4 separate regions of the Homo sapiens genome follow, and all the other regions are linked to region 3. The links come from fine-mapping of genetic effects on gene expression. A gene starts in region 3. Each other region holds a variant in brackets. All regions are shown on one strand. Distances are between the middles of the regions. Region 1 overlaps ACTL6B (actin like 6B). Region 2 overlaps AGFG2 (ArfGAP with FG repeats 2). Region 3 holds the start of SAP25 (Sin3A associated protein 25). Region 4 holds the start of SPDYE3 (speedy/RINGO cell cycle regulator family member E3).

Region 1 (8,100 bases), 78 kb before region 3:
TTTTAAATTTTTTTTTTTTGACACAGTCTCACTCCGTCACCCAGGCTGGAGTGCAATGGTGAGATCTCAGCCTCTGCCTCCCGACATCAAAGGAATCTCCTGCCTCAGCCTCCTGAGTATCTGGGATTACAGGCACCCGCCACCACGCCTGGCTAATTTTTTGTATTTTTAGTAGACAGGGGGTTTCGCCTTGTTGGCCAGGCTGGTCTCGAACTCCTGACCTCAGGTGATCCACCCGCCTTGGCCTCCCAAAGTGTTGGGATTACAGGCATGAGGCACCACGCCCAGCCTCCAAGTCCTTTTTTGACCTTTTCACTTATTATTATTATTATTATTATTATTATTATTATTATTATGGTCAACTTTGGTGAGCTGGGGATGTTGGCTCACACCTGTAATCCCAACACTTTGGGAAGCCAAGGCAGGAGGATCACTTGAGCCCAGGAGTTTGAGACCACCCTAGGCAATATGGCAAGACCCGTCTCTTTTATTAAAACAATAAAAATTAAAAATTTTTTGCCGGGTGTGGTGGCTCACGCCTGTAATCCCAGCACTTTGGGAGGCCGAGGCGGGTGGATCACGAGGTCAAGAGATCAAGACCATCCTGGATAACACGGTGAAACCCCATCTCTACTAAAAATACAAAAAATTAGCCAGGCATGGTGGCGGGCACCTGTAGTCCCAGCTACTCGGGAGGCTGAGGCAGGAGAATGGCGTGAACCCGGGAGGCGGAGCTTGCAGTGAGCTGAGATCGCACCACTGCACTCCAGCCTGGGCAACAGAGCGAGACTCTGTCTCAAAAAAAAAAAAAATTTAAAACCTCATTTAAAAAAATGTTCTTACCCACCTCCTTATAAATTCCTCTTTATAAAAGCAACTGTTTTTCTCCTTTTTAGCTAATGTTGGGGGTATTTTCTTCCATATCTCTAATACTACACTTAAATTGCTGCCTGTGGAGTGTTTAGTTTTAGGTATTATCGCTGAATTTTCCACTTTAGAAAATGATCGCTTAGCTCTCTTTTCCTCCCCAGCCTATGCCACACGTATTTCTTATCACCCTCCTTTAAGTACAGTGGGTTTTGTTGTTGTTGTTGTTGTTGTTTGGGGTTTTGTTTGTTGTTTGTTTTTGAGACTTTGCCTCAAAAACAGGGGGTCTGCTCAGTTTGTCACCCAGGTTGGATTGCAGTGGCACAATTCTTCAGCCTTGGTCTCCTGGGCTCAAGTGATCCTCTCATTTCAGTCTCCAGAGTAGCTGGAACTACAGGCATAAGCCACCATGCCCAGCTGATTTTTAAATTTTTTTTAGAGACAGGGTTTCATCATGTTGTCCAGGCTGGTCTTGAATTCCTGGGCTCAAGCAATCTGCCCGCCTCGGCCTCCCAAAAGGCTGGGATTACAGGCGAGATCCACCACACCCAGCCCAGTTGTATTTTAGACTTTAAAAGAAATCAGTATTCAGTATTTACATTCTTTTTAAATTAGAAATAATTTTAAGAGAATCTTTTGCAGAGATGGGGTCTCATCATATTGCCCAGGCTGGCTTCAAACTCCTGTGCTTAAGCGATCCTTCTACTTCAGCTAACAAAGTGCTGGGATTACAGGCATGAGTCACTGTGCTCAGCCCAATATTTACACTCCTATTACTATGTATGCTAATCAGGCCTGAGACAGGCAATACACCATGATCACCTTTCCTTTCTTGTGCAACTTTTTGTTTTCCTAGAACTGGAAAAAAAATGTGTTCAATTTTTTTTTTTTTTTTTTTTTTTTTTTTTTTTTTTTTTTTTTTGAGACGGAGTTTTGCTCTGTCACCAGGCTGGAGTGCAGTGGTGCGATCTCAGCTCACTGCAAGCTCCGCCTCCCGGGTTCAAGTGATTCTCCTGCCTCAGCCTCCTGAGTAGCTGGGACTACAGGTGCGTGCCACCACGCCCAGCTAATTTTTGTATTTTTAGTAGAGACGGGGTTTCACCATGTTGGCCGGGATGGTCTCGATCTCTTGACCTCGTGATCCACCGACCTTGGCCTCCCAAAGTGCTGGGATTACAGGCGTAAGCCACCATCCCAGCCCTGTGTTTGATTATATTTGGTCTGGTTTTCTATCTACTTAACAGTGTGAACCCTAAATCATTCATCAATTGTATCTTTTGTCAAGACGTCAATTCCATTAGATATTTTATCAATTTCTTTTTTTTTTTTTTTTTGAGACATAGTCTTGCTCTGTTGCCCAGGCTGGAGTGCCATGGCGCGATCTCGGCTCACTGCAAGCTCCACCTCCTGGGTTCTCCTGCCTCAGCCTCCCGAGTAGCTGGGACTACAGGTGCCCACCACCACATCCGACTAATTTTTTGTATTTTTTTTTTTTTTTTTGAGATGGAGTCTCACTCTGTTGCCCAGGCTGGAGTGCAGTGGTGCGATCTCGGCTCACTGAAAGCTCCATTTCTCCTGCCTCAGCCTCCCAAGTAGCTGGGACTCACACCATTCTCCTGCCTCGGCCTCCCAAGTAGCTGGGACTATAGGCACCCACCACCACGCCCGGCTAATTTTTTGTATTTTTAGTAGAGGCGGGGTTTCACCGTGTTAGCCAGGATGGTCTCCATCTCCTGACCTCGCGATCCGCCGGCCTCGGCCTCCCAAAGTGCTGGGATTACAGGCGTGAGCCACCACACCTGGCCTCTCATCAATTTCATTTCTTGAAGAAATTTCTTCAGGAGCCCACTGACCTGGTCCAGTTTGCACTAGTAGCCCTCTGCCAGGGGACAGACCTGTCATGCTGGCATCTTCCTTCACCATCATCTTGTAGAATCCTTTTGCCTCTGTCCTGGTTAGAAGTCCTGTTTCCTGTACTTGACTCCTTTTCTTGACTTATTCCTTTGTTTTCATGGAGCAGGTCCTTCAGTAACTGCCTTAGAAAGGTCATGAGAGGCCAGAGACAGTGGCTCACTCCTGTAATCCCAGCACTTTGGGAGGCCTTGAGTCCAGGAGTTTGAGACCAGCCTGGGCAATATACTGATACCTTATCTCTACCAAAAATATAAAAATTAGCTGGCCATGGTGGTGCATGCTTGTAGTACCAGCTACTCGGAAGGCTGAGGCAAGAGAATTGCTTGTACCCAGGAGGCAGAGATTGCAGTCAGCCTAGATCATGCCACTGAACTCCAGCCTGGGCGACAGAGTGAGACTCCATTTAAAAAAATAATTAATTAAATAATAATCTAAAAAAAAACTTTTTTTTTTTTTTGAGATGAAGTGTCACTCTTGTCCCCCAGGCTGGAGTGCAATGGCGTGATCTTGGCTCACTGCAACCTCCGCTTCCCGGGTTCAAGGATTCTCCTGCCTCAGCATCCCAAGTAGCTGGGATTACAGGCACCTCCCATCACACCTGGCTAATTTTTGTATTTTTAGTAGAGACGGGGTTTCACCATGTTGGCCAGGCTGGTCTCAAACTCCTGACCTCAGGTGATCTGCCCGCCTTGGCCTCCCAAAGCGCTGGGATTACAGGCATGAGCCACCGCGCCCAGCATCTAAAAAAAAAATTTAAAATAAGGTCATGGGAAGTATATTTTTTGAGACTTTTGTGTGTCTCACCTTGAGTTGATAGCTTAGCTAGGTATCCCATGCCAGGTTAGAAATCATTATTCTTCAGAATCTTGAAGGCACTTTTCCATTGTCCTTCTTCCAGCATATATCGTTGCCATTTAGAAGGATGAAACCATCTGATTTCTGATCCTCTGATGTAATGTTTTTCTTTCTGAAAGTTTATAGAATTTTTACTTTATCCTCAGTGTGGTGTATTTTCATTCATGGCTCTAGGCACTTAGTATGTCTCTTCATTCTGAAAACATATGTCTTTCAATTCAGTGAAAAAGAATTATTTATTTAATTATTTATTTCTCTCCATTTTCTCTCTTGGGATTTTCTGTTATTGGATTTTGTTGCCCCCTGAATTGGTCCCCTAATTTAATTCCCTTTTCTCTTATATTTTCCATCTCTTTACCTTTTTCCTTTGGTTTCCAAGATATTCCCTCCACTTTATGTTCCAATCCTTCTATTGAGTTTTTCATTTCTGTTCATGTAGTTTTAATTCCCACAAGCTCCTTACTTTAAATTTTTTTTTTAATGAGACAGCATCTCACTATGTTGTCCAGGCTAGTTTCGAACTCCTGGGTTCAAGCAATCCTCCTGCCTCGGCCTCCCAAAGTGCTGGGATTATAGGCGTAAGCCACCCTGTCTGGCCTGTGCAAATGTTTTAAATGCATGTGTGTGTGACTGTGAGTGTGAATATATGTGTATGTGTGTGTGTGAGTTTGTGTGTGAATGTGAGTATATATGTGTTTGACCGTGTGTTTGTGAGTGTGTTTGCATGTGTGACCGTGAGTGTATGTATAGTGTGAATGCATGTGTGTGTTTATGTGTGTCTGTGAATGTGAGTGTATGTGTGTGTGTTTGAGTGTATGTGTGTGTGTGTGCAAGTGAATGCATGTGTGTATGACCGTGAGTGTATGTGTGAGTGTTTAGGTTGTGTATGTGTGTGCAAGTGTTTGGATGTGTGTGTGTGACCGTGAGTGTATGTGTGAGTGAGTGGGTTGCGTGTGCGTGGATGTGGGTCTGTGCCTCTCCCTTCCTGA[A/G]TCCTCCCCCTCTGCACTTTCTCCACAGTGGAACACACGGGCCAAGCGGGAGAAGCTGACAGAGCTGATGTTCGAGCAGTACAACATTCCTGCCTTCTTCTTATGCAAGACGGCTGTGCTCACCGCGTATCCTCTGGACTGAGCTGCTCTGACTGGGTGGAGGGCTGGGGTGGGGCCTGTGCTGAGCTCAGCTGTGATGAGCTGGAGGGTCAGGCCTGGTTCTCTGAAGATCAGTGTCCCAATGGGCAGACACCTCCCTCTGCCCCACTAGTGCAGAAGGCCCAGTGGACTGAGCACCTCCGACTCTGGGGTGGCCAGATCAGCGGCCCCTTTCGGTTCCCCGGATCAGGCTGAGCAGACAGTGAGCTGGGCCCGGGAGAGAGTAGGGGCTGGAACTGGACAGAGGAGGGAGACGTGTAGAACACTGCGGCAGTCCCTTCCCAAGAACTCCTTCAACACTGACTGTTTTTAGGATCTGCCTTGCATTGAACCCTGTGCTATGCACTGGGGTGATAGCGACCCTAATTTCAGGGAATCTGTAGGACACAACCAAAAATAAAGGGGCTGGCCAGGCGCGGTGGCTCACGCCTGTAATCCCAGCATTTTGGGAGGCCAAGGCGGGCAGATCACTTGAGGTCAGGAGTTAGAGACCAGTCCGGCCAACATGGCAAAAGCCCGTGTCTACTAAAAATGGAAAAATTAGCCAGGCATAGTGGTGGGCACCTGTAGTCCCAGCTACTTGGGAGGCTGAGGCAGGAGAATCTCTTGAACCCAGGAGGCAGAGGTTGCAGTGAGCTATTGCATTCCAGCCTGGGCGACAAAACGAAACTCAGTTTCAAAAAAAAAAAAATAACTAAAGAAGTAACTGGGGTCGCCGGGTGTGGTGGCTCATGCCTGTAATCCCGGCACTTTGGGAGGCCGAGGCGGGCAGATCACGAGGTCAGGAGATCGAGACCATCCTGGCTAACACGGTGAAATCCCATCTCTACTAAAAATACGAAAAATTGGCCGGGCGTGGTGGCAGGCACCTGTAGTCCCAGCTACTCGGGAGGCTGAGGCAGGAGAATGGCATGAACCCGGGAGGCGGAGCTTGCAGTGAGCTGAGATTGCGCCACTGCACTCCAGCCTGGGAGACAGCAAGACTCCATCTCAAAAAAAAAAAAAAAGAAGTAACTGGGGTCTCAGAGCCTTTCTCCAGGAGATGAGTCATCACCAGGGGGAGAGATTTGCAGACTGGGGATGGGCTGGACCCCGGTAGAGCAGAGAGTGACCAGACAAGATCTGGGCCCAGGCCCCTCACTTGCTGCTGCTGTCTCTTTGACTTACCCATCCGATGCCAGCTTTGCAAACGGGCGGTCCACTGGCCTCGTGCTGGACAGTGGAGCCACCCACACCACGGCCATTCCAGTACATGACGGCTACGTTCTGCAGCAAGGTGGGGCTTCGGCAGGGGGTGGGGGTGCTCCAGGAGGACCAGGTCCTGACAGTGCCTTCCTTCTAGGCATCGTCAAGTCCCCTCTGGCAGGGGACTTCATCTCCATGCAGTGCCGGGAGCTGTTCCAGGAGATGGCCATTGACATCATCCCACCTTACATGATCGCAGCCAAGGTGGGGCCTCTGGGGACATGGAGCTGCCACTAGAGTCCTGGCCACTCGCCCCATGGCCGTCAACCCTCTGACACATGAGATATCAGAGCAGAGAGCAGCAGGCTCCCCAGTGGGTCCTGGCTCCAGTTCCTCCTTTTATAATCGAGGCATCCGAAATCCAGACAGGCTGAGGGATATGCTGAGGTCATGAAACCAGCTGGCAGACAGCAGGATGTGTGAGGGCCAGTGTGGTGGGTTCTAGGGTCCAATATAGACCCAGGTTCAAGTTCTGCCTCTGCCGTGCAAGAGCTGCAGGACCGGTCAGGCATGGTGGCTCACACCTGTAATCCCAGCACTTCGGGAGGCTGAGGCAGGCAGATCGCTTTGAGCTCACTTCGAGACCAGCCTGGGCAACATGGTGAAGCCACGTCTCTACTAAAACTGCAAGAACTAGCCAAGCATGGTGGTGCATGCCTGTAGTCCCAGCTACTTGGGAGGCTGAGACTGGAGAATCACCTGAACCCCGGAGGCAGAGGTTGCAGTGAGCCGAGATCGCGCCACTGCACTCCAGCCTGGGCGACCGAGTGAGACTCCATCTGAAAAAAAAAAAAAAAAAGAGCTGTGTGACCAACAGCATGATATCAAAGCTCCCTGGGCCTCAGGTTTGTCTTATGTAAAGTGGAACGGCAGTAGGCAGTAGCCAGGGTGCTGTGAGTATGAAGTGACACTGTGTGCTTAGCTCCATTCCGTGCCCTCACATGGATCATGACCCCCTAGGAGGCCATTCCCTTGAGGTTCTGTCACTGCTGTATTCCTGGTGTTCTCCAGATCAGCTGCACCCACCGCATGAAAGGCACACATGGAGAGAGAGGCATGCCCCATTCTCTCTCCTCTCCATCAGGGAAGGGTGAGAAACCCCTCTTGCAGGCAGCACAGCAGAGCCTGCAGCGCCAGGTAGCTGCAGAGCTGGGAACAGTGCCAGGAAGGTGGGGGTGGGGGTCAGGTGGGCTAGGAAAGGGTGTTCCTACACTGTGCCCCCACAGGAGCCTGTCCGGGAGGGTGCCCCCCCAAACTGGAAGAAGAAGGAGAAGCTACCCCAGGTCTCCAAGTCCTGGCATAACTACATGTGTAATGTGAGCCTCTGGAGAGGGCCACCTGAAACCCCCCTCCCCTGCCATGAATCGGGGGCGGGACAGAGGCCCCGCATGGGAGGGGGAGCAGGGAGGGGGAGCGGGGCAGGGGGTGCTGCTCACGGGGAAGGCAGGCCCTCACCACCTCCGCTGGGATTTCAGGAGGTGATCCAGGACTTCCAGGCCTCCGTGCTGCAGGTCTCAGACTCCCCCTACGATGAACAGTGAGTGTGGCTCAGGGCTTTGGGGTGGGAGAGAGGGCAGAACCGGCACTCTTGGGGTGGGCTGGGGGGCTCTGGTGCTGCCCACGCACTGATCCTTCTTGAGCACCCCAGGCAGAGTCCTGCTCCCTTCTGGGTAGGGTGGCTGCACAAATGCCCACAGTGCACTACGAGATGCCCAATGGCTACAATACAGACTACGGCGCCGAGCGACTCCGCATCCCTGAGGGCCTGTTTGATCCCTCGAACGTCAAGGTTTGGCTGTGTGGCGAGGACTGGGGTGGGTGCTGGCTGCAGTCCCTGGATCCTGGGGCGTGGGGGAGGCTGGGAAGGATTGCAGGGGTCTGGGGGGAAGGGGGAGAGAGCCCACAGCCCCAGTCACCTCTCTCTGCAGGGCCTGTCGGGGAACACCATGTTGGGTGTGGGCCACGTGGTGACCACCAGCATCGGCATGTGTGACATTGATATTCGCCCGGTGAGGCCAGGCCGGAGCTGAGGCTCGGCAAAGGGGCCCAGGGGAAGTGGGGAGACGGGGTT
Region 2 (8,100 bases), 19 kb after region 3:
GTTTGTGTCATCTTTTATCATACAGAATGTGACCTATGGCCAGGCATAGTGGCCCATGCCTATAATCCCAGAACTTTGGGAGGCCAAGGCAGGCGGATCACTTGAGGTCAGGAGATTGAGACCGGCCTAGCCAACATGGTGAAACCCCGTCTCTACTAAAAATACAAAAATTAGCCGGGCATGGTGGCATGCGCCTGTAATCCTGCTACTCAGGAGGCTGAGGCAGGAGAATCGCTTGAATGAGATCACGCCATTGCACTCCAGCCTGGGCAGCAGAGTAAGACTCTGTCTCAAAAAACACACAAACAACAAAACAACAACAAAAACCAAAATGTGACCTATGTGATTTGTCTTTGTTAGAATTTATGGAGATTTTGTTTCCTATAGTTTATTTCTTACTTGTCTATTAGTCATGTGGGAAAGCATATTATAGTCTCCTAGTCCTTTGGCTTATTAAATTCTGATTGTGTCTAATAGTTTTTGCTTCGTGAATCTCATGGGTATGCGGTCAGTTATTTTAAGTACATGATTTTGAGAACCTCTTTGTGAATTTTAACTTTTTTTTTTTTTTTTGAGACAAGAGTCTTACTCTGTCACTCAGGCTGGAGTGCAGTGGCAGGATCTCGGCTCGCTGCAGCCTCTGTCTCCCAGGTTCAAGTGATTCTCCTGCCTCAGTCCCCTGAGTAGCTGGGATTACAGGTGCCTGCCACCATGCCCAGCTAATTTTTGTATTTTGAGTAGAGACGGTGTTTCACCATGTTGGCCAGGCTTATGTCAAACTCCTGACCTCAGGTGATCTGCCCACCTGGGCCTCCCAAAGTGCTGGCATCACAGATGTGAGCCACCACGCCCAGCCAACTTTTATCAATATAAAATGTTTCTTCTTATAGCCCTCCAAAACGATAAAATAAAAACAAAAGCAGCTAATCAGCTCACAGTGGCACAGTGAGAAGGCTGTGGGCAGAGCATGAGTCAAGAAGTCTGGGCTCTGGTCTCAGCTTGGTCGCTCTGTGGCCTGCATGACTAGGGAAATTGCTTAACTGCCTTATCTGTCAAATGGCCAAATTTTAAGGGTTCCTTCCAGCCCTCAAAACTCTATGATCAGAGGCACTTGGGTAGGCTCTGGGGTGGGGATAATAACTTACCAAAGCTGTAACTTTCAGTTAGCATCCGACTGGCTGGCAGTGAGGGTGGAGAAGAGAAGGGTGGGTAGAGGAAGGGAGAAAGAAAGAGTGTATGTCACTGGCTTTTCCCCAGACATCTGAGCCTGACGGCGAGCACTGCAGCTGCCCTCCCATGTGTCCAGGATGTCCAATGGCAGAAGGCACCCAAAGGCTATGAAGACTCAATGTGTAGAGCTTAGGAAGGAGCAGAATGCTTTAAGAAGGCCTGAAGAGTCTCTTGCAATGGCTAAATAACATAGTTTATTTGGTTTTGTTTGTTCGTTCGTTTGTTTTGAGATGGGGTCTCACTCTGTCACCCAGACTGGAGTGCAATGGCACAATAATCACTCACTACAGCCTCAAACTCCTGGGCTCAAGCGATCCTCCCACCTCGGCCTCCCAAAGTGTTAGGATTGCAGGCGTGAGCCATTGTGGCTGGCAGCAACATAGAGTTTACAGGCCTTTGGTCTTAGAGGGATGGATGAGGACTTCTGGAGACTACCTTGACCCTTGACCCTTTGGGACAGCGTACTATGCAGACAAGAGCACCTTAGAGAAAAAGTCACGTCCATTTTCAATTTTTCTAGGACTCAGGTCTTCCATACTTCCTAGTGAAAAGTTTCCTAGTGTATAACCCACACAGCTCCTGCTGCAATCTTAGTCATTTTCCTTTCATGAAAAAGCAGAACAGTAGAGCCCCCTCTCCCTGACAAGAATGTGTCAGACACGCTCATCCTCTCCTGGAGCTGCTTCTCTTTGTGCTTTGCTGCTTTGAGCAGTTCTTTAGGATAGTGAGGATATGAATGGTGATTTATAGACATGAACAAATGGACACGGTTGGAAGAGAAAGGAAGCCAGTGGGGCAGAGTTTACCTGCAGGAGTTGGCTGGGCCTGGAACGAGGCTTGACCAGCTGGAGGGAGGCTTCCAAACACAGAAGAGCTGGGGCCACTGCTAAAGGCATCAAAGTTGGCAAAGCCTCCTTGGGAAGGTGTCTGGCCTGTAGGTGGAAGAAACATAAAGGTTATATAGAAAATTGTCGGGTGTGGTAGCTCACGCCTGTAATTCCAGCACTTTGGGAGGCCGAGGTGGGCAGATCACTTGAGGTCAGAAGTTCAAGACCAGCCTGGTCAACATGGTGAAATCTGTCTCTACTAAAAATATAAAAATTAGCTGGGCGTGGTGGTACATGCCTGTAATCCCAGCTACCTTGGAGGCTGAGGCATGAGAATTGCTTAAACCTGGGAGGTGGAGCTAGCAGTGAGCCGAGATTGTGCCACTCTACTCTAGCCTGGGTGACAGAATGAGACTCTGACTCAAAAAAAAAAAAAAAAAAAAAAAAAAAACCACACACACACAACAGAAAAAGAAAAGAAAATGTATATGCCTATCCATGTAATATAGCTACTAATTCTAAAGGCCAAAGGCCACTCTTATGGGACATCTGCCTTTCCACAGGGTTCTCTTCAGAGGGAAATGGGTGGGGCCTGGGGCCAAGAGCCAGACCCACACAGGGGAACAGGGGCACCCAGGGCCTCCAGGTTCACTCCCTGCCCTCTTCTGTCCTTACTCCATGAGGCATTAACATTTTTGTCAGGGCCTAGTTTGGAGCATGAAAATTTTTTTTCATGGAGGAAGGAGCTTGAATTTTTTTTTTTTTTTTTTTTTTTTTGAGACGGAGTCTCACTCTGTCACCTAGGCTGGAGTCCAGTGATGCAATTGTGATTCACTGCAACCTCCACCTCCTAGGTTCAAGCAATTCTCCTGCCTTAGCCTCCCAAGTAGCTGGGACTACAGGCACATGCCACCACACTTGGCTAATTTTTTTTTTCTTTTTAGTAGAGATGAGGTTTCACCATGTTGGCCAGACTGGTCTTGAACTCCTGACCTCAGGTGATCTGCCCACCTCAGCCTCTCAAATGCTAGGATTACAGGTGTGAGCCACTGTGTCTGGCTTGAAAATTTTTAAAAAGGGAAAACAGATTCTATGCTGCTGAACCCTCTACTGGCTATTGCTGATTTGGGGGAAGAATAATCTTTGGTGAACTGGAACACATGATAATCCCCCTCCTCCCATTTTAACAGAGACAGAAAATAATAAAAAAGGCTATTTCCAGTGTTCTAAAAGGAAGTGCTAGGAGCCCTCAACTATAATGTTTTAGGATCAAACCCCCAAACATAATCCTGGCTGTACTTATTTGACCCCAGTCCTCCCAGCCTCACTGCTTCAGAGTGACCCTCACATTTGTTTGCATGAGAAGATCTAGAGCCATGGTTACCTCCAGGGACTGGATCTCTCATGTTGTAAGCATATACGCTGTAGGGAGGGTCCCATCCCAAAACCCACTTACCCCCAAAGGCAGGGAATGCAGCAAAAGCTGGTGCCATCTGGGGTGCAGCAAAGGGGTCTCCACCGATGTCAGCCAGCAGGTCAGTACTGGCTTTTTTGACAGAGGAGTGGGGAGGTGGCTGAGTGCTCCGGGCCTGGGATGTCCGAGCGTGAGACTGACTGACGGGCTTGGAGGAGAAGGAATGCATACAGCCCTTAGAATCCCAGACATGCCCCAGGCCCTCCTCTGGCTCCCCAGGTTGCCCTCAGATAGGCAGGTAGAGAGAGAAGACAGTGAGTAACTGCCCTCAACCTAGAAGATTCCTGGGCAGGAGCTGCCTTAGCCCCTCTCAGAGCTCATATCATCCTCATCTTCTCAGTACACCTGCTCCAAGAACCACACATTTTACAGCACATGAGCCAAGGTAACCCTGAGATATACAGGAATACTGCCCAATACTGCCCCCAGGGCTGTTACTCCTCAACCTTCCCAGGTATTGGACACCATATTCCAGCCCCTTCTGTGTTTCTTTGATGGAATGCTCAGGTTTGGAGCTGATATTCTGACTTTCCTAAATACCACTTCCTGTTAGGTTCTGACTTCCAAAAGATATGAGGTCCAGAAGTGACAAATACAAGATACAGGTTAACAGCAGAGCCGAGACCCAACTCACAGCTCCTGCACTGTTGTCTGCTAAGTCCGGGGAATCTGATTCAGGAAACTGACACTCCTGTCTCCCAAATCTCAAAAGAAACATGACGAGCAGATCTGAGAGTTACCTGGCTCGAGGTGGAGGCAGCAACTGAGAGAGACGGTGCAGGATCACCCAGAAGTGTCCGAAGGGGCTTCCCTTCTGGGATGGAGCCCTGCACAGGGGTGGAGGCACTGCCTTTGGTATAAGTGGGCCCCTTGACTTGGTCTGGGGGGACATACCTTTGAGAAAGAATAGTTAGGCTGTAAAGAGAGGGATAAAACTTTGGACCACGCTCAGCTGAGATGTTTGGGAAGACACAGGAGTCAAAATCTATGCTCATTTTTCTCTACTGATTCCCTTTTTTGAAGGGAACCGAGCAACTTAGCAAAGTTCTGCCTATCTTGAGCATCCCCTTGAACATCTTTTGGTTTTTTTGAGACAGGGTCTCGCTGTTGCCCAGGGTGGAGTGCAGTGGGGCAATGTTGGCTCAACACAGCCTTAACTACCTAGGCTCAAGTGATTCT[C/T]CTGCCTCAGCCTCCCAAGTAGCTGGGACCACAAACAAGTACATGCTACCATGCCTGGCTAATTTTTTAATTATTTGTAGAGAAGAGGTCTCACTATGTTGCCCAGGGTGGTCTCAACCTCTTGGCCTCAGGTGATCCTCCTGCCTTAGCCTCCAAAGTTCTGGGATTACAGGCATGAGCCACCACACCTGGCAAAGGTCCCCCTCTTTTATTTCCTGGGTGTTTCTTCAGACTCCTTCTTCTCAGCTCCATAGAAAAGCTGCCTGCCGCCTCATCCTCTAGGTGCTCACAATCCACACTTCCATCCTGCCAGCTCCTGCCGGGACAATTCCCTTCCACTACAGTGTATGTGGCCCCTACTCTGTAAGTGTCAGCTTAATCCTGAGGACATCCCTAGGAGGGACTCCACAGTGTGGTCTTATCCACATCAATCTCTTTGTTCTCTGCATTCTCTTCTCTACCTCACAGTTACCTCCCAACATGTACACACCCCAGAGATCCCACAAGAAGTGATACCAGGGGAGAGGAAAGGTAAGGGAGAATGGAGATGCTGTTTCCTTCATCAGGAAGACAAAATATAGTTGTCCCATGGTATCCTCAGGGAACTGGTTCCAGGATCCCCCTGACAATTCCATAATCAGAGGACGGGACACTCAAGTCTCTTATATAATATGGTGAAGTATTTGCATCAAATATGTATATCCTCCAATATACTTTAAATCATCTCTAGGTTACTTATAATACCTAATACAATGTAAATGCCATGCAATAGTTGCTATATTGTATTGCTTTTTATTTGTATTATTATTTTTTTTTTGAGACGGAGTTTCACTCTGTCACCCAGGCTAGAGTACAGTGGCACGATCTCAGCTGACTGCAACCACTGCCTCCCGGGTTCAAGCAGTTCTCTGCCTCAGCCTCCTGAGTAGCTCGGATTACAGGTGCCCATGACCATGCCTGGCTAATTTTTTGTATTTTTAGTAGAGACGGGGTTTCACCATCTTGGCCAGGCTAGTCTTGAACTAGTCCTGACCCTGTGATCCACCCGCCTCGGTCTCCCAAAGTGCTGGGATTACAGGCATGAGCCACCACACCTGGCCTTATTTGTATTATTTTTTATTGTTGTATTGTTATTTTTTGTGTTCCCTACTTTTTTTTTTTTTTTTTTTTTTTTTTGAGACAGTCTCTCTCTCTTTGCCCAGGCTGGAGTACAGTGGCATGATCTCAGCTCACTGCAACCTCCGCCTCCTGGGTTCAAGCAATTTTCCTGCCTCAGCCTCCAGAGTAGCTGGGATTACAAGTGTCCACCCCCACACCCAGCTAATTTTTTTTGTATTTTTAGTAGGGACGGGGTTTCACCATGTTGGCCAGGCTAGTCTCGAACTCCTGACCTCAAGTGGTCTGCCCACCTCAGCCTCCCAAAGTGCTGGGATTATAGGCGTGAGCCACCTTGCCTGGCCTATTTTCCCAAATATTTTTGATGTGAGGTTGATTGGATCCATGGTTGCAGAATCTACAGATACAGAGGGCTGACTGTACATATAAATCATGAAACAAGGCCGGGCACGGTGGCTCACGCCTGTAATCCCAGCACTTTGCGAGGCCAAGGCAGGCAGATCATTTGAGCCCAGGAGTTTCAGACCAGCCTGGGCAACGTGGTGAAACCTCATTTCTACAAAAAATATAAAAATTAAGGCCGGGCGCAGTGGCTCACGCCTGTAATCCCAGCACTTTGGGAGCCAAGGTGGGCGGATCACGAGGTCAGGAGATCGAGACCATCCTGGCTAACACGGTGAAACTCCGTCTCTACTAAAAATACAAAAAATTAGCTGGGTGTGGTGGCGGGCGCCTGTAGTCCCACCTACTCGGGAGGCTGAGACAGGAGAATGGCGTGAACCTGGGAGGTGGAACTTGGAGTGAGCCGAGATCACGCCACTGCACTCCAGCCTGGGTGACAGAGCGAGACTCTGTCTCAAAAAAAAAAAAAAAAAGAAATATATATATATATATATATATATATATATATATATAAATTAGCCAGGCATGGTGGCACACACCTGTAGTCCCAGTTACTGGGGAGGATGAGGTAGGAGGATCACCTGAGCTCCAAGAAGCTGAGACTGCAGTAAGCTGTGACTGTGGCACTGCACTCTAGCCTGGGCAACAGAGTGAGACCTTGTCTCAAAAAAAAAAAAAAATCATAAAATGATGGGTTAAAGGAATAAAACTATAGGATGTGTGCTTCCAGCCATCTCTCCCCATACATAAGATCAGCTGAGCTATAAAAATGAACACCCACAGGCCTACCTCCCGACTCCAATCAGTCTACTATCTCTCCAAAAGAGAGGACATAAAATCTGCAGGGTTAGTGACTGAGAACAAGTTGTCCTTTCATGTAGATTTATTTTAGCCGTAACTGAATGTGAGTGGAACAGAATCGACCCAAGTCTAGTCTTTTGTGAGAAGGCCAAATTCAACTCTAGAAACTGGACTGTCAGATGAAGAATGTCTTGAACACGTTTCCATAGCAACCTCTTTCCTACTCCTTACCATCTCTTCTTCTCATATTTTTCCTGGAGAAACTCCTTCACTTTCTGAGGATCCCTGGAATCTGGTACTAAAGATGTCCGAGCATCAAACAGACCCAACCAAATCTTCCGGCAAACCTAAAAGAATGAAGGTGTCAGAGGAGTGGGAGCAGAAAGCAGGAAATACAAAAAATACCACTTCCTTTTTTTTTTTTTTTTTTTTTTTTTGAGACGGAGTCTCGCTCTGTCGCCGGGCTGGAGTGCAGTGGCACGATCTCAGCTCACTGCAACCTCCACCTCCGGGGTTCAAGCAATTCTCCTGCCTCAGTCTCCCAAGTAGCTGAGACTATAGGCATGCGCCACCACGCCCAGCTAATTTTTGTACTTTTAATAGAGATGAGGTTTCACCATGTTGGCCAGGATGGCCTCGATCTCTTGACCTCGTTATCTGCCCACCTCAGCTACCCAAACTGCTGGGATTACAGGCATGAGCCACCGCGCCCAGCCACCACTTCCTATTTATTCATCAGTAAATACATATTGGCTGGATGTGGTGGCTCACACCTGTAATCTCAGCACTTTGAAAGGCCGAGGTGGGTGGATCACTTGAGTACGGGAGTTCAAGAGCAGTCTGGGCAACACAGCGAAACCCACTCTCTAAAAAAATACAAAAATTAGTGGAGCATGGTGGCATGTGCCTATAGTTCGAGCTACTTGGGAGGCTGAGGTGGGAGGATCGTTTGAGCCCAGGAGGTTGAGGTTGCAGTGAGCCAAGATTGCACCATTAAGCTCCAGCCTGGGTGACAGAGCAAGCAAGAGCTTGTCTCTGATAAATAAATAAATAAATAAATAAATAAACAAA
Region 3 (8,081 bases):
CGTGTCCACTCAAGCCATGCACAAGTAGGTTTCCTGCCAGCATCCCCTCCCCACTCCTCTTCCTATGACCATCATCCCTCTAATTCCCTTCTGTCTCTCCTCAGCGGCTCGCCTAAGTCCAGTGCCTCCCAAGCAGGGGCTGCAGCGGGGCAGGGAGCCCCCGCCCCTGCCCCTGCCTCCCAAGAGCCCCTTCCCATAGCTGGACCAGGTGGGACAGGGATTTTGGGAGGAGGATGGGGCCTGTGTTGGTGAGGGCTGGTTGGGAGAGAGGGACACAGAGGGGATGCCTGTCTCACCTGCCCCTGTCGCTGTGTCCCTGGTTCCGGCCCCAGCGACAGCACCTGCTCCACGGCCACTTGGCTCCATTCAGAGACCAAACAGCTTCCTCTTCCGTTCCTCCTCTCAGAGTGGCTCAGGTGGGTGTCCTGCCCTCCCCAGTGCTGACCCAGTGCTTGCCAGCACCAACGGCTACATCACCCTTCTGCCCTGGGAGCCCTCTGGGTCTGTTGTACCTTTTGTACCTTTGCGTTGAAAATCCCACAAGCAAGCCGGGTGTGGTGGCTCACACCTGTAATCGCAGCACTTTAGGAGGCCCAGGTGGGAGGATCGCTTGAGCCCAGGAATTCAAGACCAGCCTGGGCAACATAGCGAGACCCCATCTCCATGAAATAAAAAAAAATCCCACAAGCAGAGAGGCAGGAGGTGTAGGTGCCAGGCCACTGGGACCCAGCTACAGAGTCAGTGGTGAGCAGTGGAGGCAGCCCCATGCCCCCCTTTTTCTCCTAGGCCCTTCCTCACCAGACTCTGTCCTGAGACCTCGGCGGTACCCCCAGGTTCCAGATGAGAAGGACTTAATGACTCAGCTGCGCCAGGTGAGCAGAGGCGGGAGCTGCGTGGGCAGGGGCCTGGGCCGGGCACCTCCTTGTGTTGCTGTCCTTGGGACCAGCCTCCCTCCACATCCTCTGTGCCCACTCTGGCACCTCCCCTGAGGACAGGAAGGGACAGGCACAAGTTCCCTGCTAGCCCTGAGCCCCCCACTCTCCCTGCCTCCCAGACGCCTCTCCTTCCCTGACCCCTGCTCTATGTGGTCTACACTGCCAGGTCCTTGAGTCCCGGCTGCAGCGGCCCCTGCCTGAGGACCTGGCCGAGGCTCTGGCCAGTGGGGTCATCCTGTGCCAGCTGGCCAACCAGCTACGGCCGCGCTCCGTGCCCTTCATCCATGTGCCCTCCCCTGCTGTGGTCAGTTGGGGCTGGGGAAGAGGTGGGGGATGGGCCGGGGCGCCTGTGGCCTCTCCCTTACCACATTTTCTTCTTTCACCCACCCCAGCCAAAACTCAGTGCCCTCAAGGCTCGGAAGAATGTGGAGAGTTTTCTAGAAGCCTGTCGAAAAATGGGGGTGCCTGAGGTATGGGGGCTGCTTTCTAAAGAGTGGTGGCATGCCGGACTCAGCCGAGCATGTGGCATGGATGGTGGGCTTCCATTTGCAGCGGATGTCTGCTCTCAGATGAAGGCACAGGCTGCCCCTGCCCTGCCCAGCATGCCCCCTGCCCTGCATGCCCCCTGCCCTGCATGTCACCTGTCCTACACATCCCCTGCCCTGCAGGCCCCATCTTGTCCTGCATGTCACCTGTCCTGCACATGCCCTGCCCTGCACTCCTCCTGCACTGCACTCCCCCTGCCCAGCACGTCAGCATGTGGGCGTGGTTCTGGCCCCAGCACGTGAGGGCAGGGGTGGGAGGGACTGTCCTGCTGCTGCTGCTGACGTCTGTCCCTTGTCCTTGTCCACCTGCTCTCCTCTCCCCCAGGCTGACCTGTGCTCGCCCTCGGATCTCCTCCAGGGCACTGCCCGGGGGCTGCGGACCGCGCTGGAGGCCGTGAAGCGGGTGGGGGGCAAGGCCCTACCGCCCCTCTGGCCCCCCTCTGGTCTGGGCGGCTTCGTCGTCTTCTACGTGGTCCTCATGCTGCTGCTCTATGTCACCTACACTCGGCTCCTGGGTTCCTAGGCCCCAAAATCGGCCCTCCCTCACCCCTTTCCCTTCCTCTCTATTTATAAGGTCCCTGCTCCACCCGACCCCACCTGCGGTGCCTTCAGCCCCAACCAAAGACACTAGTGCACCCCCTTCACAGACACTGACCTCAGAGGCCCCACTCTGGTGCCCCCAGACCCTGGGCCCCCAGCCTCTGGCCTCCCTCCAGTAGCCCCACGAGTCCCCACCTCTCAGTGCTGACGGTGCCTTCATGTCCCCGCCGGCCCTGCCCCTGCCCTCTGTACCCCGTGAGGGGTGGCAGGAGCTGGAGTCTCCCCCTTCCTCCTGTGCCCTCCCCTTCCCCCCCCAACAGCTGCTATGGGGGGGCTAAATTATCTCTATTTTGTAGAGAGGATCTATATTTGTAGGGGTTCGGGGCCCAGGCCGGGTCCCTATCTCTGTGTATAAACTGTACAGACCGTGGCCGCCCTGCCTGTGTGTGTGTGTGTGCGCGCGCGCGCGCGTCTGCTCCGCGTGTTGGTGGCTGTGGCCATGGCTCTGTGCCCACCAGCATCTCCCTCCTGAGATGCCGGCCTCTCATGCTCCCGGAGCGTCCGCCAACCCCCCGTGTCACCTCCCTTCTGTTATCGCTGACAGCTTTCTTGCGTCTCATTTGTCGCCGAGCCCCGAGCGCACGGTGATGCTCGGGTCTGCCCCCGACCCCCTGCCACAGGCCGGAAGCCGCAGGGGGCACCGTGGGGAAGCTAACCCGGCCCCTTCCCCCAGGAGTCACTGTGCCAGCCCCACCACATCCTGGAAGAGGAGGGGGCCCCGGGAAGGGGCCTCCCCTACATCGCTGCTGTCGTCCACGCCCTGCTGGACCGGCCTTAGGGGTGAAGGTGGGGGCACAGGGCCCACCCCGCCCGGGACCCCGGGAGCAGAAGACGCGCCTGGGCTCCGCGCTCTCAGAGAAGCACGTGGTGAGGGTGGCCTGGGCCTGGGCACCCTTGGCCTGCCGGCCTGGCTGCCTCTGGGGTCGAGGGTCTGGGTGGAAGGACCGCGGGTGTCGCAGGTGTCGTGTCAGCCGCAATAAACAGAAGCCAGAAGCCCTCTGGGTGGCCCTCAGGTGTAACTGTGTCTGAGAGCACGTGCGTCGCGGGGTTGTTGGGGGGGCCTCTGTTTCCGGAATTCACCGCCCAGTCGCCAGGGGGCGCCCGCGGGAGCCCGGCGGGGGCACGCGCCACGTGGCCGGGAGACGCACAGGGCGCCAGCGTCGCCGCGAGGCCTCTGGGGTGGGTTCGCCAGGAGGGCACGTTCGCGCCGCGCCGCGGAGGGAGGCTGAGAGGGCCGGGCCGGGCGGCGGGGACACGGCGGTACCGTCCTGCGCTCGGGAACGCGGAATGTTGCCCTGGTCGCCGCCGCGGTGGGGCGCGGGCCCGGAGGAGGCGCCCGAGGGACCAGGCCTTCCGGCGGGCAAGGACCAGGGCGAGCCCTGGAGCGCCGGAGCGGACGCCCCCAGGGAGCTGGGGACACCCCCATGGGACAGGTGAGGGGCTCGGACGGAGCCGTGGGGGGACAGCGACTGGGGGCCTCCATGCCTTCACCACGCGCTCTACGGAGGCTTCTCCATTGTCCCTGCTGGAGATTGGGTCCCTCGGTCTCCCTTGCACCAGGCACCCTTGGGCTCCAGGGGAGGGTGCGTGGGGGCGGTGTGGCTGCAGCCTCAGTCCCTGCCCCTCCAGCCCACAGCCCCCATCCCGTAGCCCTTCCTGGATCTGGAGAGAGCAGCTGCTGCTGCCCCACCACCTGCCAGGCCCGGCCACTGAGCAGCCCCCCGGAGCCCCAGGTAGGACAGGCCCTGCTGCCTCTACTACCCCTAAGAGCCTCTCACTGACTGTGAGCCTGTTATAATCCCCAAGCGTCCCCCCAGATCCCCGTTCCCCCCAGGTGGCCTGGGAGGTGGCCCCCTCGAGGATGACTCCACTAGCGCCCTGGGACCCCAAGTATGAAGCCAAAGCAGGACCTCGGCCGGTGTGGGTGAGTTGGGGGCAAACCTGTGGGACTGGCTGGGGTGCTCAGGGAGCTGTGCGGTGGCCTGAGGCTCCAGTGCTCTGTCCTCCTCACCCTAGGGGGCCAACTGTAGCTCAGGAGCCTCGTTCTCAGGCCGGACGCTGTGTCACCCCTCATTCTGGCCGCTGTATGAAGCAGCCTCGGGCAGGGGTCTCAGGCCCGTGGCCCCTGCCACAGGGCACTGGAATGGACAGCAGGCGCCCCCAGATGCAGGTACCTCCCTTGGTCCCCCGGGGGCGCAAGGCTGCCCCAACTCCTCTGGGAACCAGTGCCCAGGGGTGGGAGCCCGCAGCCCGCCACCCTAGTGGTGTTTCCTCCTAGGGTTCCCGGTGGTGTGCTGTGAAGATGTCTTCCTCTCGGACCCTCTGCTGCCCCGGGGGCAGCGTGTTCCCCTGTACCTGTCCAAGGCCCCCCAGCAGGTGAGAGCTCTTTCCCCTCCCTGTCCTTACCCCAGCCTCCAGGCTTGCCTGGCAGGAAACACATTCCATTCTCTCTCCTCAGATGATGGGCTCCCTGAAACTGCTGCCGCCGCCCCCCATCATGTCTGCCAGGGTGCTCCCCCGCCCATCACCCTCCCGGGGCCCCTCCACTGCCTGGCTCAGCGGGCCGGAGCTGATCGCTCTCACTGGCCTGCTGCAGATGAGCCAGGGGGAGCCTAGGCCCAGCTCCTCCGCGGTTGGCCCCCCAGACCATACCTCTGACCCACCCAGCCCCTGTGGTAGCCCCAGCAGTTCTCAGGGTGCTGACCTCTCTCTCCCACAGACCCCAGACACCCATTGTCCATAGCCTTCTCAGGGCAGAGTGGGCTGGTTGTGTTGACAATAAAACAGTGTTGGTTTGCAAAACAGGCTCCGTGTGGCTGGGAGCAGAGTAAGTCATAGAGGCAGGAATGGGGTCTCTTTCTGTCTCACTGCAGATCACCCCCTGCTGTGTTAGGCGGAGGGCGAGGGTATCCATGACCTAAGGCATTTCTGGGCTGACTGGGCAGAGCCCCTTTAATGAGTGGGTGGGTGGTCTGCATGGCAGTGCAGGGCTGAATGTATAGGAAGCAGGCGGGGGAGTAAGTAGGGGCACCTCACTTTTAGGGGACACTAGCCCCACACCTCTTGTGCTGGGGCTCCAGGAGTTCAGTTCTGGGCTGGGTGGGGTAGTTGTCTGGCTCAGAGGAGACACAAAGAATGCACTGCAGGTGTGTGGGGGAGGGTGCCGGTCCATGTAAATGTCACCACTGGCAGAAAGGTGGCCCTGCCGCAGCCTACCTGAGACTCTAGAGATTCTTGCACGAACTCTGTAGAGAAACAGGATCAGGGTTTCAGCTGAGAAAGCCCAGAAGTGTGTAGTCTCGGTGGTTTGGGCGGGGATAGGTTCTAGAATTTTCTCCCATAAAATAGCCCAACTTCTTGGAGAACCTTCTACTCAAGACTTAGGTGCCACAGCTGGAAGGGACACAGGGGGCAGGACCCCAGCTTGTTGCCCTGCAGGTCACTTGTCCGAGGTGGCATCTGGGCCTTAAAGCCCCTCACACGGTGGGGAGTTAGGAGGCAGGGCGGGGGCGTTACAATGCCATTCCCTCCAGTCCCTCCCTCAACCACCCCCCCATCAGTCAGCAGGAGAGAGCTGCCTGGGTCTCAGGTCTCCTCACCGCATAGCTATGTGGGCGGAGCGTGTGGGCCCTGGGGACGTCACCAAGTGCCCCCAGAGAAAGGACCAGGTCCAGATCGACGTAGCTGAGGCAGCTCGTCAGGGGCTCTGGCCTGGCGGTGCCGGTTCCGAGGCTCTCTGGGGCCGATAACTTGGTGCACACTTCACTCCCTAGCCAGCTCTGAGGGGGGCAGGAGCAGCGCTGAGTCCCTACCCATCCCCAGCCAGCCCCCACATCGCGATGGGCACTCCTGGGCCTGTGTCCAGGCTCCTGAACCCAGACTTGTAGGAATGGGCTCATAGTCACTCCCTGCTCCCTTGGTTATGTAGCCCCCACCCAGCCCCTTAGGGTAGAAGGCTGCTGTCCCCAGCCTCGCCAAGGTCTTAAGGGCTGCTTGCTCGATCCCCTCTCCCAGACACCCTGGACGGCTCAGGCCACTTGACTGGTCCGCAGAAGCTGGGGTCTCAGGGATGGGGAACAGGGAGTCTGAAGGTGCTCATAGGAGGGTCCCTGAGCACCTGGGCCTCGTCATTGTGCCTGGAGAACTCTTTTTTTTTTTTTTTTTTTTTTTTTTTTTTTTTTTTTTTGAGACAGAGTCTAGCTCTGTTACCTAGGAGTGCAGTGGTTGATCTTGGCTCACTGCAACCTCCGCTTCCCCGGTTCAAGCGATTCTCCTGCCTCAGTCTCCTGAGTAGCTGGGATTACAGGCATGTGCCACCACGCCCGGCTAATTTTTGTATTTTTAGTAGAGATGGGGTTTCACCATGTTGGCCAGGCTGGTCTCGAACTCCTGACCTCAGGTGATACGCCCGCGTTGGCCTCCCAAACTAATGGGATTATAGGCGTGAGCCACCGGGCCGGGCCTGTGCCCGGAGAACTCTAAACCTGCCCCTTTAATGTTTGAACTTTCGGCGACCTGGGGGAGGGGCGAGCCACGGAGAAACCACAGCCAGAAGCCCCCGAGGCCCCCGGAAGCCCGGGGCTCGGGCCTCACCGGCATCACCGCGCTCCTCGAGCAGGGTGTTGTATCACGCCTGCTGCTCCGCCTCGCCTGCCGCCGCCACGCGCAGGCTGCTGTCGCGGGTGTAGAGGACGATCAGGTGGTGCTGGCGCGCATCTGCGCACTTGCTGGTGGTGCACGCACCCGCCAGGCTCAGGCTGCGCTGGAGCCGCGCTCGGCACGCGCGAAACTTCTGCTCGCTCTCGGAACACTCGGGACGCGGCGGGTCTGCGCGCAGGTGGCCGCAGAACCGCACGTCGGCAGGGCAGGCCCAGGGCAGCGGCTGGCTGAGGGGCACGGCGGCCATTCCCGGCTCTCCCCGGGGCCGCCGCCTGCGGGCTTCATTCAGGGGCGAAGGCAATAAAGTGGCTGCAGAAGAGGCAGAGACGGCTGGGTCTCGTGTCTTGAGCACGGGGAGAGGCCAGCAGGGGTGGGGGTGAGGTGGCGAACTCGGCGGGCCGGGAGCAGCGGCCGGGCAGGCTGCCACCCGTCTTGATGCCCAGCGTCTCTCCCGGGCTCCCGACTGGAAGTTTGGGGCAAGGACTCTGCGCACAGCGAGTGTCCCGGTGACTGTTGCCCCTGGCCTGGGCTCCCCACTACCTCCCTCCCTCCGCCGACCGCTCCGGAACCCCCACCCCACGAGACTAATCCTCACGTCGCCCAGGAACTGGAGTTTGAGTAGGGAAGTCCAAGAGAGGCGGCCTCGACCCCAAGACTGAGCCTTTATAGGGGCAGAGAGCGTGGGGGCGTCTCTACCGATCAGCTGACTGCGGTCCGGACACGTCGTCGGGGCAACCGAGAAAGCCTCGGTGTGAGGCCAGTGATCGGACTTGTGGCAGCGGTGGTGGCGCTGGCGATTAGAGGGCTTTGGAACGGGGCCTCCATGCACCCTGCTGGCTCCTGCCACGCCCCGCTCGGCCTGTAGGTGTCCTTCCTGTGTGTACCCCCTTCCCATCCAGGAGTGGTTTTGTGCCCTTCCAAGTAACCAAAGGAGCCACCGCCACTGAGCACTGCGCTGGATTATTTCTGAGCTGGAGATTGAGTTTCTTGAAAGTTTGGGGTGATAGGAGGTGACTTGGGCTAAGTAAGCTCAGGGGGTAGTCCCTGTGCACAGACCATACCCGCTGGAACCCAGTCAAGTGGCCACTGAAGGAGACCTCGGAGGAAGAGGCCATCTCTCAGGAAGACCCCTTCGGGCTGCCCCATTGCTCTGGGCCCCTCCTTGCCACCACTGCCCAAAAATACTACCCCGGGACCACCTGAAGGCTCTGACCATGGACGTGTGGACTTCCTCATGGAGGTACCCTTTGCTTCTTGAAAAAATTGCGATTGGGCTGGGGACTGGACATTTTTGCACTCAGTTCTGATCCAAGGACCACTGACCCCCTCCAAGGGGATGGGG
Region 4 (8,100 bases), 260 kb after region 3:
AGTCCTGAGTTCAAGCAATCCTCTTGCCTCAGCCTCCCAACGTGCTGGGATCTCAGGCGGGAGCCACAGCGCCTGGCCCAAAACCAAGCTTTCTTATCCCAAGCACCGACCTTTATCAAGTCTACCTAATCCTCTGTTGACTCCTAAGTGTCCCTCATGAGTGATCACTTCAGAGTCCTCCCGCATGGAGAGCTCACCCACTGGGGCATATTTTTCCCATTGGAAAAGTGTGGTTATTGGAAGTTTCCTCTTTTTAGAAAGAACAGGATTGGAGGTGCTCTCTGGGGTGTCCTCCTACCAAGCAGCCTGTTGAAGGCCTCGTAGTACTCAGGGAGCACGAGCGACACTCGCCGTCGCTTCGCCTTCATCTTGAGGCCACACAGCGTCTCTGCCACCCAGGTCTCCTCAGGCTCAGGGGCGAGCTCCTTCTCTGGCTCATCATCAGATTCATCCAAACACTCCCTCTTCCTTTTGCAGCCAAGGGACCTACGTGGGGGGCTGGGATCTACCCCAGGGGCTGAGTAAAGAAACCAGGCCACCGTGTAATGCTTCTGCAACTGATCACGTTAGACCCCGACCCCAAACCCCAAACCATTCTCCATCCTCCCCAGCCTCTCAGACTGCTGGCTTCTCCAAGCCACCTTTCTGACTTTCTCCTCTGCTCAACCCCATGTGCCACTCCTTCCCCTCCCCATTCTTCCCTCTCTCTGTCCTCAGAACACTGCGTCATATCCTTCCCTGGTCCCTGGCTCTCTGAGGCCCTCTTTTTTTTTTTTGTTTCGAGACAGAATCTTGCTTTGTCACCCAGGCTGGAGTGTAGTGGTGCAATCTCAGCTGACTGCAACATCTATCTCCCGGATTCCAGTTATTCTCCTGCCTCAGCCTCTCAGGTAGCTGGGATTACAGGTGCCTGCCATAATGCCCAGCTCAATTTTGTACTTTTAGTAGAGACGGGGGTTTCACCATGTTGGCCAGGCTGGTCTCAAACTCCTGGCCTCACGTGATCCGCCTGCCTTGGCTTCCCAAAGTGCTGGGATTACAGGTGTGAGCCACTGCACCCAGCCTGAATTTCTCCATTCTTCCCACACACCCTCCCCAGGTTCTCCTTCCTGACCTCTGACCCTTCTTTTTTTTCTTCTTCTTTTTTTTTTTTTTTTTTTGAGACAGCGTCTCACTCTCTCACCCAGACTGGAGTGCAGTAGCACGATCTCGGCTCACTGCACCCTCTTCCTCCCAGGCTCAAGCGATTCTCCTGTCTCAGCCTCCCGAGTAGCTGGAACTACAGGCATGAGCTACTGTGCCCAGCCTTGGTTTTTCTTTTGACGCAGAGTTTTGCTCTGTCACCCAGGCTGGAGTGCAGTGGTGCAGTCATAGCTCACTGCAGCCTCAAAGTCCTGAGTTCAAGCAATCCTCTTGCCTCAGCCTCCCAACGTGCTGGGATCTCAGGCGGGAGCCACAGCGCCTGGCCCAAAACCAAGCTTTCTTATCCCAAGCACCGACCTTTATCAAGTCTACCTAATCCTCTGTTGTCTCCTAAGTGTCCCTCATGAGTGATCACTTCAGAGTCCTCCCGCATGGAGAGCTCACCCACTGGGGCATATTTTTCCCATTGGAAAAGTGTGGTTATTGGAAGTTTCCTCTTTTTAGAAAGAACAGGATTGGAGGTGCTCTCTGGGGTGTCCTCCTACCAAGCAGCCTGTTGAAGGCCTCGTAGTACTCAGGGAGCACGAGCGACACTCGCCGTCGCTTCGCCTTCATCTTGAGGCCACACAGCGTCTCCGCCACCCAGGTCTCCTCAGGCTCAGGGGCGAGCTCCTTCTCTGGCTCATCATCAGATTCATCCAAACACTCCCTCTTCCTTTTGCAGCCAAGGGACCTACGTGGGGGGCTGGGATCTACCCCAGGGGCTGAGTAAAGAAACCAGGCCACCGTGTAATGCTTCTGCAACTGATCACGTTAGACCCCGACCCCAAACCCCAAACCACTCTCCATCCTCCCCAGCCTCTCAGACTGCTGGCTTCTCCAAGCCACCTTTCTGACTTTCTCCTCTGCTCAACCCCATGTGCCACTCCTTCCCCTCCCCATTCTTCCCTCTCTCTGTCCTCAGAACACTGCGTCATATCGTTCCCTGGTCCCTGGCTCTCTGAGGCCCTCTTTTTTTTTTCTGTTTCGAGACAGAATCTTGCTTTGTCACCCAGGCTGGAGTGTAGTGGTGCAATCTCAGCTGACTGCAACATCTATCTCCCGGATTCCAGTTATTCTCCTGCCTCAGCCTCTCAGGTAGCTGGGATTACAGGTGCCTGCCATAATGCCCAGCTCAATTTTGTACTTTTAGTAGAGACGGGGGTTTCACCATGTTGGCCAGGCTGGTCTCAAACTCCTGGCCTCACGTGATCCACCTGCCTTGGCTTCCCAAAGTGCTGGGATTACAGGTGTGAGCCACTGCACCCAGCCTGAATTTCTCCATTCTTCCCACACACCCTCCCCAGGTTCTCCTTCCTGACCTCTGACCCTTCTTTTTTTTCTTCTTTTTTTTTTTTTTTTTTGAGACAGCGTCTCACTCTCTCACCCAGACTGGAGTGCAGTAGCACGATCTCGGCTCACTGCACCCTCTTCCTCCCAGGCTCAAGCGATTCTCCTGTCTCAGCCTCCCGAGTAGCTGGAACTACAGGCATGAGCTACTGTGCCCAGCCTTGGTTTTTCTTTTGACGCAGAGTTTTGCTCTGTCACTCAGGCTGGAGTGCAGTGGTGCAGTCATAGCTCACTGCAGCCTCGAAGTCCTGAGTTCAAGCAATCCTCTTGCCTCAGCCTCCCAACGTGCTGGGATCTCAGGCGGGAGCCACAGCGCCTGGCCCAAAACCAAGCTTTCTTATCCCAAGCACCGACCTTTATCAAGTCTACCTAATCCTCTGTTGTCTCCTAAGTGTCCCTCATGAGTGATCACTTCAGAGTCCTCCCGCATGGAGAGCTCACCCACTGGGGCATATTTTTCCCATTGGAAAAGTGTGGTTATTGGAAGTTTCCTCTTTTTAGAAAGAACAGGATTGGAGGTGCTCTCTGGGGTGTCCTCCTACCAAGCAGCCTGTTGAAGGCCTCGTAGTACTCAGGGAGCACGAGCGACACTCGCCGTCGCTTCGCCTTCATCTTGAGGCCACACAGCGTCTCCGCCACCCAGGTCTCCTCAGGCTCAGGGGCGAGCTCCTTCTCTGGCTCATCATCAGATTCATCCAAACACTCCCTCTTCCTTTTGCAGCCAAGGGACCTACGTGGGGGGCTGGGATCTACCCCAGGGGCTGAGTAAAGAAACCAGGCCACCGTGTAATGCTTCTGCAACTGATCACGTTAGACCCCGACCCCAAACCCCAAACCATTCTCCATCCTCCCCAGCCTCTCAGACTGCTGGCTTCTCCAAGCCACCTTTCTGACTTTCTCCTCTGCTCAACCCCATGTGCCACTCCTTCCCCTCCCCATTCTTCCCTCTCTCTGTCCTCAGAACACTGCGTCATATCGTTCCCTGGTCCCTGGCTCTCTGAGGCCCTCTTTTTTTTTTTTTGTTTCGAGACAGAATCTTGCTTTGTCACCCAGGCTGGAGTGTAGTGGTACAATCTCAGCTCACTGCAACATCCATCTCCCGGATTCCAGTTATTCTCCTGCCTCAGCCTCTCAGGTAGCTGGGATTACAGGTGCCTGCCATAATGCCCAGCTCAATTTTGTACTTTTAGTAGAGACGGGGTTTCGCCATGTTGGCCAGGCTGGTCTCAAACTCTTGGCCTCACGTGATCCGCCTGCCTTGGCTTCCCAAAGTGCTGGGATTACAGGTGTGAGCCACTGCACCCAGCCTGAATTTCTCCATTCTTCCCACACACCCTCCCCAGGTTCTCCTTCCTGACCTCTGACCCTTCTTTTTTTTCTTCTTCTTTTTTTTTTTTTTTTTTTGAGACAGCGTCTCACTCTCTCACCCAGACTGGAGTGCAGTAGCACGATCTCGGCTCACTGCACCCTCTTCCTCCCAGGCTCAAGCGATTCTCCTGTCTCAGCCTCCCGAGTAGCTGGGATTATAGGCACACACCACTACCGCCTGGCTAATTTTTGTACTTTTAGTAGAGATGGGGTTTCACCATGTTGGCCAGGCTGGTCTTGAACTGCTGACCTCAGGTGATCTGCCCGCCTCGGCCTCCCAAAGTGTTGGTGTTACAGGGGTGAGCTACCGCACCTGGCCCCCTTCCTTCGTCTTAGTCAATCCTATGCCACCTCTTCTTCCTCCAGTCCCCTCACCTGATGGTCCCGACACTTCATCATCCACCACCTCCTGGAGGGGGTACCCTGAGGTGCTCCGCTGGGGGCTCTGCTCTTCCTGGGGCTGCGGTTGATGGCTCGTCATGATCTTTCCCAAAATCTGTCCAATCTCACCGAAGCTAGTCTCTGTTCTGT[C/T]CTTGGTCTTCTTCTGGACACTGCTGGGATCCAGAAGAGTGTGTTATCAATTCTCGAGGCTGGGAGAAGTCAGGAGTGGAGAACAGCTCTGAGAAGTTACTGTTGTTCACCTGAACTGCCAGGCGCCGACAGAGTCCGGTCCTTCCAATCAGGAAGGTCGGAATCTCTGATGTCATAGGTCATTCCAACCTGGCAACCAGTTTGAACAAAAACACATGTAACTGCCAGGCTGATCTCTTGTCCTGGAGATCCTGGGTGAATGGTATCTCCTGCCACTGTCCCAACCTCAGACCACTGTCCAAAAGCATCTTCAGGGTCTCCGCATCCCTCTGTTCCCTGTCCCAGCAGAGGCTGTGTCCTCTCCACTCAAAGCTTGAAGCGTGTTGGGGTCTCCTCTTCTCTGTACATGCCCGTTTCAGAGTCCAGTCTGGTGGGAGAGGGATCAGGATGGGAAAGAAAACTAGGGTAAGCAGAAACGATGAAACCTTATAAGAGTGAGAGTATCATGTACAAGAGATCCCAGGAACATTGACTTGATGAAAAAGTCACATCAGAGCACTCAATTTGGCAGAGCTTTTCTGCCGAATGTTTACTGATATTCACTGTCCGAGATTCTGTACTGGGTGTAACGTGTCCTCTGCCCTAAGGCATCTTTGAGTCCAAGAGATATTTTGAGGACTGGAAATCATCGGAAACTGCCCATGAGCTCACACATATTTCCAATGGTGTCCCCAGTTTCAGGGAGTCCACGGATCACCTAAAGCCAGCCCCTCCAGTTTGGCTAAGAAACTCTATATATCAAGTTTTGTATCATATGTATTGCTCTTAACTCAGAAATTCCACCATTTATAGCAGTGGTTTATTTATTTATACTATTGAAGGAAATGGTTTATTTATGAATCTATATTATGGATATTCTATAAGATACTGGGTGTACAAAAAGACTAAGTCGAAAAATCTCAGCTGTGCACAGTGGCTCATGCTTGCAATCCCATCTCTTTGGGTGGCCAAGGGAGGAAGACTGCCTGAGGCCAGCAGTTCAAGACCAGTGTAGGCAACATAGCAAGACCCCATCTCAAACAAAACAAAACAAAACAGAACAAAATTAGCCAGGTGTCGTGGCTGGCACCTGTGTTCCAACAACTTGAGAGACTGAGGTGGCAGGAGGATTGCTTGAGCCTAGGAGTTAGGGGCTGCAGTGAGCTGTGATCGTGACACCGCACTCCAGTCTGGGCAACACAGCAAGACCTTGTGTCAAAAAAATTTTTTTAATTAAATATAAAAGAGTTTCATGACATTCAGAGACCATCCAAAGAACCTGTGGGTTCCGGCCAGGCACAGTGGCTCACGCCTGTAATCCCAGCGCTTTGGGAGGCCATAGCAGGTGGATCGCTTGAGGTCAGGAGTTTAAGAGCAGCCTGGCCAACATGGTGAAACCCCATCTCTTCTAAAAATACAAAAAATTAGTCAGGCATGGTGGTGGGTGCCTGTAATCCCAGCCACTCAGGAGGCGGGGGCAGCAGAATGGCTTAAACTTGGGAGGCGGAGGTTGCAGTGAGCCAAGGTCGCACCATTGCACTCCAGCCTGGGCAACAAGAGCAAAACTACATCTCAAAAAAAAAAAAAAAACAAACAAAAAGAACCTGTGGATGAGTTCCCACATGGCTTCCTAACGGGCTGCGGCTCTCCTAGGAGTCTCTCGCTCATGGGAAAGGCACAAACTGAATGTGGAAGGAAATCCCATTGCTGTGGAAGTCCCATTGTTAGGAAGCTCTGCTTTTCTGGAGTTCAAATTTGCATTCATGACGCTTTAAACCGTCAGAGCTGGGTGTGTCCTCCTACAACAAATCACTTTACTCTCTCTCTCTCCTAGTTAACAGGCTTTCAAATATTAGAACATCCATGTTCTGACCTCATTAAAATTGCTCTTTTGTGGAATGAAAAGCTCTGATTTAACCCGTCTTTAAGCCTGGTATGCATATTCCTCTCTGTTCCGGCCACCTTGTCTAGACACACTACACTGAGGCAGTGCCCATCTTAGATGATGTTGATACATTGTCAAAAAATGGGCAAACCAGGCGCGGTGGCTCACACTTGTAATCCCAGCACTTTTGGAAGCCGATGCCGACAGATAACCAGAGGTGAGGAGGTTGAGATCAGCCTGGCCAACATGGTGAAACCTGTCTGTTTTTCTGTAAAAATACAGAAACAATGAGCTGGGTGTGGGAGTGCACTTCTGTAATTCCAGCTACTTGCGGGGCTGAGGCAGGAGAATCACTTGAACCGGGATGGTGGAGGTTCCAGTGAGCCGAGATCACGACACTACACTCCAGCCTGGGCGACAGAGTGAGACTCCGACTCAAAAAAAAAAAAAAAGTGCCAGACAGCCCAGGTTTGGTCTGATATGTTCAGAAAAAAGCAAAACAGTCACCTCTCACCTTTTCTTTTCCTGCAATGATGCCGTTTAATACAACAATGGCTGTAGGTCTGCGGCAGAAATATCATTCAAGTGAAACAGAAGGGCTTTCCTGGCTGGACACAGTGGTCACTCCTGCAATCCCAACACTTTGGTTGGCTAAGGTGGGAGGATTTCTTGCGGCCAGGAGTTCGAGGCTGCAGTGAGCTGTGATCTACCACTGCATTCCAGGCTGGGCATCAGAGTGAGGCCTGTCTCTAAAAAAAACCCTTCACTCCCCAAAAAAAGGGATTTTCAAATACCAGCCTTTCAGCATGAGGATCACATGGAGGAACATTAAGACACAGATGCTGGGACCCAGCCCTATTGATTGTAATTAAAAAACTGAGGTGAGGCCTGATTTAGCTCCATCATTGGAATCCATTCAGATTTGAAATTCTCTGAGTTGGACAGTGCAAGAGAGATCCTAAAGAAAGCAAAGTCACCGTGGACTGAAATGAGCTGACAAGGTTTTCTGAGCGTGGTGAAATATGATCTGGGCCTTGCTTGGGAGGGCTGTGGCCAGGCCTTGAGTCCGTGGCTCAGTGGGACCTTCTGAAACAGCCTCCAATCCGTGCCCCCACTTCATTTGCTAGTGGATGACCCCCTCCAGTGGCTTTGGTGCTGATGGGAATAAGTCGACCTGCAGCGGAAGTTCAGCCCAAGTTTTAGCCCAGCAGCTTCTCCACACCTGTCCGTGGTCTGGTCATGCCGCCGTCTCTGCGGTTCTCTGCGGAGTCGTGGTTTCTGTACCTTGAAGAGAACTTCCCCTCTGGGACCCAGAAACCCAGTGAATCCTCAGGAAAAAAGGGAATGAAATTACTGAAGACAACTCTGTGGCGGGGAGATGGAAAAGAGGCTCTCTCTCTTTTTTTTTCCTAATATTTTGAGACAGAGTTTCGCTCTTGTCACCCAGGCTGCAGTGCAGTGGCTCCATCTCGGCTCACTGCAACCTCTGCCTCCCAGGTTCAAGTGATTCTCCTGCCTCAGCCTCCCGAGTAGCTGAGATTACAGGCACCCACCACCACTCCCGGCTAATTTTTGTATTTTAGGGTTTCGTCATGTTTGCCAGGCTGATCTTGAACACCTGACTTCAAATGATCCACCTGCCTCTGCCTGTCAAAGTGCTGGGAATACAGGCATAAGACACTGCACCTGGCCTGTTTTTGTTTTTTAGAGACAAGGTCTCTGTTGCCTTGGCTGGGGTGCAGTGG

What was found.
Region 1: its variant is fine-mapped to the expression of SAP25 in whole blood (TOPMed, PIP above 0.99).
Region 2: its variant is fine-mapped to the expression of SAP25 in whole blood (TOPMed, PIP 0.97).
Region 4: its variant is fine-mapped to the expression of SAP25 in whole blood (TOPMed, PIP above 0.99).

What each region holds. Positions count from the first base shown.
Region 1 is chr7:100,646,689-100,654,788 of GRCh38, reverse strand. ACTL6B (actin like 6B) reads left to right here. Exons shown (of 14, transcript NM_016188.5): 5 at 4,654-4,751; 6 at 5,966-6,060; 7 at 6,127-6,233; 8 at 7,256-7,345; 9 at 7,505-7,566; 10 at 7,704-7,818; 11 at 7,958-8,038. Among named protein-coding and RNA genes, the nearest start is that of ACTL6B, 5.7 kb to the left of the region's middle. RefSeq lists enhancers at 4,375-4,919, 4,920-5,466. The variant A/G (reference allele first, on the strand shown) is at 4,626.
Region 2 is chr7:100,549,672-100,557,771 of GRCh38, reverse strand. AGFG2 (ArfGAP with FG repeats 2) reads right to left here. Exons shown (of 12, transcript NM_006076.5): 3 at 7,261-7,376; 4 at 4,272-4,425; 5 at 3,514-3,679; 6 at 2,037-2,162. Among named protein-coding and RNA genes, the nearest start is that of AGFG2, 15 kb to the right of the region's middle. The variant C/T (reference allele first, on the strand shown) is at 4,711.
Region 3 is chr7:100,569,029-100,577,109 of GRCh38, reverse strand. It overlaps SAP25 (Sin3A associated protein 25), which reads left to right and starts at 3,210. Exons shown (of 6, transcript NM_001348680.2): 1 at 3,210-3,513; 2 at 3,710-3,813; 3 at 3,898-4,004; 4 at 4,097-4,250; 5 at 4,359-4,456; 6 at 4,539-4,882. The coding sequence starts at 3,368. The coding sequence ends at 4,823. LRCH4 (leucine rich repeats and calponin homology domain containing 4) reads left to right here. Exons shown (of 18, transcript NM_002319.5): 12 at 1-24; 13 at 105-208; 14 at 333-416; 15 at 787-872; 16 at 1,102-1,239; 17 at 1,328-1,405; 18 at 1,806-3,099. The coding sequence ends at 2,003. It also overlaps the pseudogene IRS3P. RefSeq lists enhancers at 1,238-1,791, 1,792-2,346, 5,278-5,948, 7,291-7,962 and a silencer at 6,832-7,031.
Region 4 is chr7:100,304,167-100,312,266 of GRCh38, reverse strand. It overlaps SPDYE3 (speedy/RINGO cell cycle regulator family member E3), which reads right to left and starts at 4,565. Exons shown (of 11, transcript NM_001004351.5): 1 at 4,276-4,565; 2 at 3,075-3,293; 3 at 1,689-1,907; 4 at 299-517. The coding sequence starts at 4,381. The variant C/T (reference allele first, on the strand shown) is at 4,432.